Homo sapiens: one gene and its partner. The protein of the gene in region 1 interacts with the protein of each later gene in a pairwise test. Each region holds a gene or a part of one and is shown on either strand. Other genes may lie near its edges.

The links. Proteins that work in one complex are often made in the same cells at the same time.
Region 2: the proteins of GOLGA6L9 (region 1) and KRT1 interact in binary tests that used the Homo sapiens proteins (3 or more experiments, as listed by UniProt).

The regions. Positions count from the first base shown.
Region 1 is NC_000015.10:82,432,780-82,438,162, forward strand, and holds part of GOLGA6L9 (golgin subfamily A member 6-like protein 9), read left to right. Parts: exon of another isoform or gene 1-37; coding exon 38-118; intron 119-782; coding exon 783-870; intron 871-1,254; coding exon 1,255-1,823; intron 1,824-2,089; coding exon 2,090-2,150; intron 2,151-3,187; coding exon 3,188-3,290; intron 3,291-3,499; coding exon 3,500-3,632; 3' UTR 3,633-5,383.
Region 2 is NC_000012.12:52,674,236-52,677,407, forward strand, and holds the end of KRT1 (keratin, type II cytoskeletal 1), read right to left. Parts: coding exon 3,081-3,172; intron 2,950-3,080; coding exon 2,824-2,949; intron 2,261-2,823; coding exon 2,040-2,260; intron 1,510-2,039; coding exon 1,475-1,509; intron 1,383-1,474; coding exon 958-1,382; 3' UTR 501-957; downstream 1-500. UniProt on the Homo sapiens protein: May regulate the activity of kinases such as PKC and SRC via binding to integrin beta-1 (ITB1) and the receptor of activated protein C kinase 1 (RACK1). In complex with C1QBP is a high affinity receptor for kininogen-1/HMWK.

The DNA of each region.
Region 1 (5,383 bases):
ATCTTTCTCCAACTCCTTCTCTCTGCATGCACCTCAGAGCCAGTACCAAGAACTAGCAGTAGCCCTGGATTCAAGCTCCGCAATAATCAGTCAACTCACTGAAAACATCAATTCACTGGTAAGAGTCCAGTGGGGTCCCCTGATTACAGCTGGTCAATCCTGGACTCCAGTTTCCTCTTGGGGCCCTGAAGAAAGGGGCTAGGGGCCCCTGATGCCAAGGGCAAATGGGGAGCTGGGCACCCAGGTCTCACCTGGAGGGACCCCAGAGCACAGAACATGCAGCATGGCTCTTCTGCACTGCCCTCTTTGCTGACTCTCTCTTCTCCAGACACCCCTGCTCTAGTCCTTGCCACACATGCCCTGGGGTTGTCACCTCTCTGGGAAGCACTAGCCTGACTGGTTGTCAGAGGTCCATATTCCTGCCCTGCCTCAGTCCCTAATTTGCTTTTTGAGTCTGGACAAGCCATCTCTCCTCTTTATGCTCGTGTTTCTGGAGGAGGTAGAGAGTATCAAAGGTCTCGGTTAGCTCTGAAAGTCAGAGATTTAAAGGCCCCTAGAATGGAAAGCTCAGGGCGAAGGGCTCCTGTCTGTCCTTTGCTGTTTTATATCTCTGCTATGAAGAACTGTACCTGGCCTGTACATGCTCAGTAAATGTTTGTTGAATGAATGCACGTTTCTAAATCACAAACTGGCAGAAGGGGGGTGGGCCTTTCTCAAACTCTGTCTCTGGACGTTCACCAGCCCCTCCCTCCAGTACCCTTTTCCCCCTTTGCTTTGGGCAGGTTCGCACATCTAAGGAGGAGAAGAAGCATGAGATACATCTGGTACAGAAGCTTGGGAGGAGCTTGTTCAAACTCAAAAACCAGACGGGTAAGATGGGGCTGGCATGACCTGGCAGCTGGACTGGCATTAGAGGGCTGTGGGGGTGACTTAGAATGCCCCAGGGAGGTGGGTGGATGGAAGGGCTTTGAGGCAGAGGGAAAGAGGTCTGTGCCAGGGGAGGACAAGTCTTGTCATCTCCATGAGCCTCAGTGTCCCCATCAGTAAAGAGGGAGGAGTGCCCATTGTCAGCCACCCACAGTGCTCTCTATCTGAAAGTGACTTGGAAGATTGTCTACCATCCGGGTGTGAGGAGTCATTAGCAGTGAGGCCAAGTTTGGGAAGCCTGAGAGGAGGAGCTGTGCACCAAAGGGAGGATTTTTTTTTTTTTTTTTTGAGAATCCAGAGGCCCTTATTCTCTGCTTGCTTTCTCAGCTGAACCCCTGGCCCCACAGCCCCCAGCAGGGCCATCTAAGATGGAGCAGCTACAAGATGAGACCAACCACCTAAGGAAGGAGCTAGAGAGTGTGGGAAGACAGCTCCAGGCTGAGGTGGAAAACAATCAGATGTTGAGTCTCCTGAACAGGAGACAGGAGGAGAGGCTACGTGAACAGGAGGAGAGGCTACGTGAACAGGAGGAGAGGCTGTGTGAACAGGAGGAGAGGCTGTGTGAACAGGAGGAGAGGCTACGTGAACAGGAGGAGAGGCTGTGTGAACAGGAGAAGCTGCCAGGGCAGGAGAGGCTGCTGGAAGAGGTGGAGAAGCTGTTAGAACAGGAGAGGCGGCAGGAGGAGCAGGAGAGGCTGCTGGAGAGGGAGAGGCTGCTGGACGAGGTGGAGGAGCTCCTGGAGCAGGAGAGGCTTCGGCAACAGGATGAGAGGCTGTGGCAGCAGGAGACTCTGCGGGAGCTGGAGAGGCTGCGGGAGCTGGAGAGGATGCTGGAGCTGGGGTGGGAAGCCCTGTACGAGCAGCGGGCCGAGCCACGCAGCGGCTTCGAGGAGCTGGTGCGTTGCCCCACCTGGGGAGGCTGCCCTCTTCCCTAGCCCTCAAGGCCTTTGTTTCCCCACCTGTAAAATGGGGCATTGTAGCCTTCACATGAAATGGTACTTCTAAAGGCATCTGTGAGCCAGAGCCCTGCTCTGATGGCTGTGGGAGAGAGGGGATATTTTTCTAACCTGCCTCCACCCTTCCCGGTGCCATGGGAGGCAGACACTAAGTTCTGGGGTCTCCAGTTTTAGTGGGTGGCCACTGATTGCTTCTTTCTGTCCAGAACAACGAGAACAAGAGCACACTGCAGTTGGAGCAGCAAGTAAAGGAGCTGGAGAAGTCGGGTGAGCTGAAAGAGACTGTAACCTCCGACCCATCCAAGAAGATGTGGGAGGCGGGCACCAGCCTCTGGGGAGGGGAGGTGCCAGGCCACAGGCAGCTGCAGCCTGGGGACAGGTGACCCCAGCACCCTCCGGGGCAGTCCTATGACTGTTTCTTGCTTCCTGCCCTCTGACTTTTAGAGGTGGGTAGCCCTGGGGTCCTCCCAGGTCTGGACATCATCATCCCAGCTAGAGGCATGGAGCCCCCCAATCACAGAGGAAGAGACAGTGGTATAAGAGGCTCCTTATGTCGGGTGTGGTGGCTCATGCCTGCAATCCCAGCACTTTGGGAGGCTGAGGCAGGACAATCACTTGAGGTCAGGAGTTTGAGACCAACATGGCCAACATGGTGAAAGCTCATCTCTACTAAAATTAAAAATAATAATAATAATTAGCCAGGCCTGGTGGTGCATGCCTGTAATCCCAGCTACTCAGGAGGCTGAGACACGAGAATCACTTGAGCCCGGGAGATGAAGGTTGCAGTGAGCTGAGATTGCACCACTGCACTGCAGCCTGGGACACAGAGTGACACTCTCTCAAAACAAAACAAAACAGAAAAACAAAAAAGCCTCCTTAGATTCAAACTGGATTCCGGCCTCGGTTCCACTGGTCATAATTCAACTACTTTGCATCTCTAAGTCTCTGTTTCTTTAACTTCAAAAGGAAGTTAGCCTTTTCCTTGCAGAGGTGCTGAGGATTAAATGAGGTAATACGTGGAAACATTAGGCATGTAGCACACTTAGCAGATGGTGGTTGGCTCCGCCTGCTTTTCCACCAGTCTGTGGCCTACAGTTTACATGCTGGGAAAAAGGACGTGAGATTTGATGCTAGGGAAGGAGGCATGGGGTTCTAAGCAAGGGAGACAGTCTCTTAGGCCTGGAGCAAGGGGCCAGGGGCCTGGGCAGGCCACAGAGCCCCACAGTGCCCTCGCTACCCTATTAATGGGCCAGGAATCTGGAAGCCAGCCACCACATGTCCTCATGCCCAGGGTCTTCCGGCAGGTGGAGCTGAAGAGCCAAGAGGCTCCGAGTCTGCAGCAGCAGCCAGACCAGTAGCTGGAGCCCCAGTCCCACAAGGAGCTTGGATGTGCGGACAAGCAGGGTGGTGAGTAGAGCCCTCAGGCGGGGTGGGCAGGCAGGAGCAGGGGAGGCTCGCACTGTGCCCAGATTCCCACCCCCTCCCTCTCTCTGAAGATCTTAGTGAGCTGAGCCTCACTGATAGCATGGAGGCTGCACCGGGAGAGGACAGGGAGGGTTCTCCCCCATGACAACCCCACTGCACAGCAGATCCAGCAGCTGCTTCCTCTAATGCAGGACTCCCCAGGAGCACCCAGGCTTGAGTGGAGAAGCTGTTGGTACAGGAGAGGCGGCAGGAGGAGCAGGAGAGGCTGCATGCCATTCTTTTCGGGCTGCCGAGAACAGGGAGCTAAACATCACCATCATCTAAGAGCGGGTCAAGAAATTGAAAAAAAAAAACAAAACATTTAAGGGGTTAATATCCTACACAATTCATTTACTTCATTTGAATGTTAGAGCCACTTATGTTTGTGTTTCTAATTTATAGTTTAAATTTATTTGTGTTTCTAATTTATAGTTTAAATTTATTTGTTTCTAATTTATAGTTTAAATTTATTTGTGTTTCTAATTTATAGTTTAAATTTATTTTTGTTTCTAATTTATAATTTAAATTTATTTGTAAAAAGTTAAATGAGAGTGGGTCTTTCTCTCATGTTCACTCTGGCATCTTTTAGCATTTCTTTAATTTGATAATTATAGGACGTTAGCATGCATATCGAGTTTGCCCTTATGTGGTGGGAGTTCAAACACACAAAGACCCACTGTATGCACACAACTGTTCTTGCTGGTTTGGGATAGGCTGCCATGCTTTTTTAATGTTAGTACAGCCTGTATATTCATTACGGAATTCAGATAAAATTTCCTTATGTTCTGCTGTTATGTTTGATCGAATCCTAATCACAGTGAGCTCTTCATTAGCTCAATATGTGGTTTGCCCTCTGGAAACAGCCTTTCCCCCTTTTTCTGTGTATTGGGGATGGGAGTAATAACATTTTGGGGAGGTTTTTAAATCTCCCAGAAGAGGAAAGTGGCCTGCTTTGGCAGGTGTGTGCAGGATAGAATATGTTTCATTTGTTCCGGTGCCAAGAATGAGCGCTGTACTACGGTAGTTCCCTTAGGATTTGTATGTGCTCTAGGCTCATGAAGATACTGCCTCATGAGCTGTGGCAGTTGTACTCTTTTTTGATGACCTGAAAAGGGATTATTTCTGAGGAATGAAAGGCTCCCATCATGACTGTGGATGTGGAAAACCTTTTCTAGCTGAGAGCATTTATATCTACAATACATTTTAAAGTCAGAGTTCATGTTCCCTGTTTTAATCACATGACTACATGTCCCAGTACACAAAAGGGCACTGGTTGGCGTTCTCCTTAATGTATTTAGTAAAGATCAGAAGAAATCCTTTAAGAGTTTAAATGCCCCTGGAACAGGCATATACAGGCTCTAGTCAAGAATGAATTCGAGTGAAGGAAAGCTGTGTGACACCTGGCATTCCTCTGTGTTCATGGAGCTTATTTGAGGCTAGAAGATGGATTTTACCATCTAGACCTCTCTGGCTAATAGCTAGTCTTCAACCATCTGACATAGGAATTTACTTCTTTTCCTTGAATGGAGAACACTTTAAAAATAATAACAAACATTATTATAAACTAATATATGTGAGAGTACTTAGTTGAAACAAAAAGGAGTTTTAGTAGACAGTATTATACTACATTTGAAAATCAAGGAGCAGTTTATGCAACGTAAAACGTTTACAAACTGCAGCACAATCTACTGTTCGTGAATGTCAAAGTGTCATGAGGAAAGTGTCTATACAATCACAGAGTTATATTTCCTCACAAAGTTCTTTACAAAGAGTGAAATATGTTTTTATACCTCTCAGTTTCAGTTAGAGGCATATTTTGTGTAATATTTATGGCTTAAAATGGACTAAAGGTCCTGTTCTTGCCTTGTCTGAACTTGCCGCTTTTGCATTCTTTGAGTTCAGTTTAAAGACAGTTACTTTAAGCCCATTTTAAACCCTCAGGCTAGAAATCGTACCACTGTTAATTAGCCACATTATTTGGTCTAACAGTTTATCATTCTGAAACTGAGCTTACCTAATACATTGATAAATTATTT
Region 2 (3,172 bases), on another chromosome or scaffold:
GAGCTTTGGGTGGTGGCACAAAAAGAGAAGGGAAATGGAATATCCAACTCTCTATTACCACTCTTAGTTCTTGAACTCCCCAGGCCAAAGTCTGTATTCTGGCTCCAGTAACTGCTGACCCTATATTACTCATGCCCCTCCTTACTGGCTGTTCCACGTGAAGAATTACTTTTTCATGCAATACTTTCCCTTCTTCTCAATGCCACACCTCTTCCTCCCAACCTGCTTGCTCACTGCCCTTTTCAAGAAAGCCTTCTCAAATGAACAAAACCTGTCACCCGGTCTCTCCATTTCTCCATGACATCCCCACCATCTGGGAAAGTGCTTGCTCTCTCTGTGATTCCAGTCTGGTGAAATGTTGCCTGGTTGGCCTCTGCATTTTTCTCATGTTTGTGTGCATGACTTTCCCATATGCCATGTGGCTCTAGTGTCTTCTTTTACCTCACAAAACACCCATCCAGGTTAGACAGTGCCGTAAACAAGGGCGATCGAGACATGGAGAATTTCAAATGCAGTTTATTGCAGCAAAACAAGGAAATGGGGAGTTTAAGACCTCTCCACAAAAGAAAAACAACTTGCTTACACCTTATGTACAAAACCAAAACAGCACAGAGATAAGATGCTAAGGAGCTGTCCACACCCTGGGTCTAACTGGTCCTACTCTGGCTGGCTTAAGGAGGTGCTTTGAAATGTCATGTGGGTGGTGGTCACTGCTGAACTGTTTCTCAGGGAAAGAACAAAGCAGGGTCATAGCCAGGGGACTGAGATTGCCACTGATCTGAAAACTTCATTGGGAAACAGCAGAAAAGAAAGAGCTGGGGGAATAGGATGAGCTAGTGTAACTAACCATAGCTCTTTTCTCCGGTAAGGCTGGGACAAATCGACCTCGGTCTTGCCAAGCATATTTGTTAGTGATGCTGGGGGAGAACTAGAGCTAATGAAACAGAGGGCATCTCTTTATCTGGTTACTCCGGAATAAGTGGTAGAAACAAACTTCACGCTGGAACTGCCACCAGAGGACTTGACACCCCCAGAGCTGGATCCCCGGCCTCCTATGGAGCCTCCAGAGCTCCCGCCGCCAGAGCCCCGGCCGCCAGAGCTGCCGCCGCCGCCGCCTCCAGAGCCACCTCTGTAGCCCCCACTGCTGCTTCCGGAGCCGTAGCTGCCATGGCCGCCGCCGCCACCTCCAGAGCCATAGCTGCCACCTCCGGAGCCGTAGCTGCTACCTCCGGAGCCATAGCTGCCACGGCCGCCGCCGCCGCCACCTCCAGAACCATAGCTACCACCTCCGGAGCCATAGCTGCTACCTCCAGAGCCGTAGCCACCGCCGCCACCTCCTCGGCTGCCACCTCCACTGATGGTGGTGTGGCTTGTGCTCACAGCTGCAAGAGGAAGCTCAGTTATTTTCAACCTCAACTCCGTTTCCAGCCCAACAAAGCCTGCACATGCCCCTGAGAAATCGACTTGTACTTACACACACTCACGTTCGGGGCACATTCTCCAGACATCCTGTAGGAGAAAATAAGAAAATTCCTCAGGACACTCCAGCTTCCCAAACCGCTTCCCCATTCCCCGCTCCACCACCTTGAAGACTTTCCCCATCTGGGTCTTCTCCAATGCACTTAATCTGAAACTTAATCCAATCCCCTCTGGCCTCCCAGACCTGTCATTTTTTCTCAGCAAGAGTACAAACACGGAGAAATTCCCATATAAACGAGACAAGAGCCTTGCAGCCAATGAAGGCCCCCTCTAAAGATGCCGACTTTAGGCCAGCTGCCATCTGAGGCAGCCCAGATAAAGAATAATTTGCTCCACCTCAAAGCTCTTTCTAGATATGTTACAGCCCTAGAAGAAAAAAATAAACAGCTTGGGACTCCAGCTCCCAAAGTAAAACTAGGTCCTTCCTCCTGCTCCGTGTACTTTTCATTTCCCCATACCCAGCACAAGCTGCAATCAGATGGCTGCATCTTCAACAACAATCAGCTTGCAAGGAAGGAAGACCATGAGAAGAGGTTCGACTCCCAGCGTCCCTTCCTCACCTGCTTTCTTCTCCCTCCAGGAGGGTCCTGTAGGTGGCAATCTCCAGATCCAGGGCCAGCTTTGTGTTCATCAGCTCCTGGTAGTCGCGCAGCAGGCGGGCCAGGTCTTCCTTGGCCTGCTGCAGGGCATCCTCCAGGTCATTCAGCTTGTTCTTGGCATCCTTGAGGGCATTCTCGCCACGCTGCTCTGCATCACTGATGGACTGCTGCAAGTTGGAGATCTGAAAAAGAATATGACACCCTCTCATAATATGCATTCCCCACTAGGCCTCCTCATCCCAATTGGTCTCCCCACTCCAGTGAGGCCAATAATGAGTCCAACAGAACCACTTGGCCTTAAGTCATCTCACACCCACCTCCAGATAACACATCACCATGTTGACTTCCTTAAAAGACCTTAGGGATAACTCAACAGCCTCTCTTGGCCCTGAGTCAAGGCTCCTACAACCCTTACAGACTTGACATTCTTCTAAACACCTACTCTAAAACCTCCTGGCTGCCCTTCCTCTCACTCCCCAACTCTTAAGTCCACTTTGGGTCATAGGCTAGATCACTCACATTGACCATCCCATCTTTCTCTACTAGGCCATTCTCACAGATTTCCCTAAAGAGAACCCAGCATGATGGCTGCATTCTGGAAACTAGCATAGTCACAAAAGGAACCAGGGATAATAATGTAGCCTTGGGATGAATTGCAAGATTCAAAACTAGGAAAGCACTCGCCCTTTACCTGAGGGTTACCCCCATTCCATACAGCTGAGTGGTAGAAGGAGAAAGCACATACCTGCTTCTTGACATTGTCGATTTCAGATCTAAGTCTCTGGATCACACGATTCAGCTCAGAAATTTCTATCTTTGAATTTCTCACACTATCCCCATGTCTGCCAGCAGTGATCTGCAGCTCTTCATACTAAAGATGGTAGATAGCGTTTGTTAAATGTAGGCAGAACTCAGCATGGCACAGGCACACATACATGAGATAACACAGGATAGCAAGACAAGCCATTTCAGGGAAACTGGCTAGGCTTTCAGCCCACTCACCTTGCTCTGGTACAAGGACTCGGCCTCAGCTTTGCTCTTCTGGGCTATATCCTCGTACTGGGCCTTGACCTCAGCAATGATGCTGTCCAGGT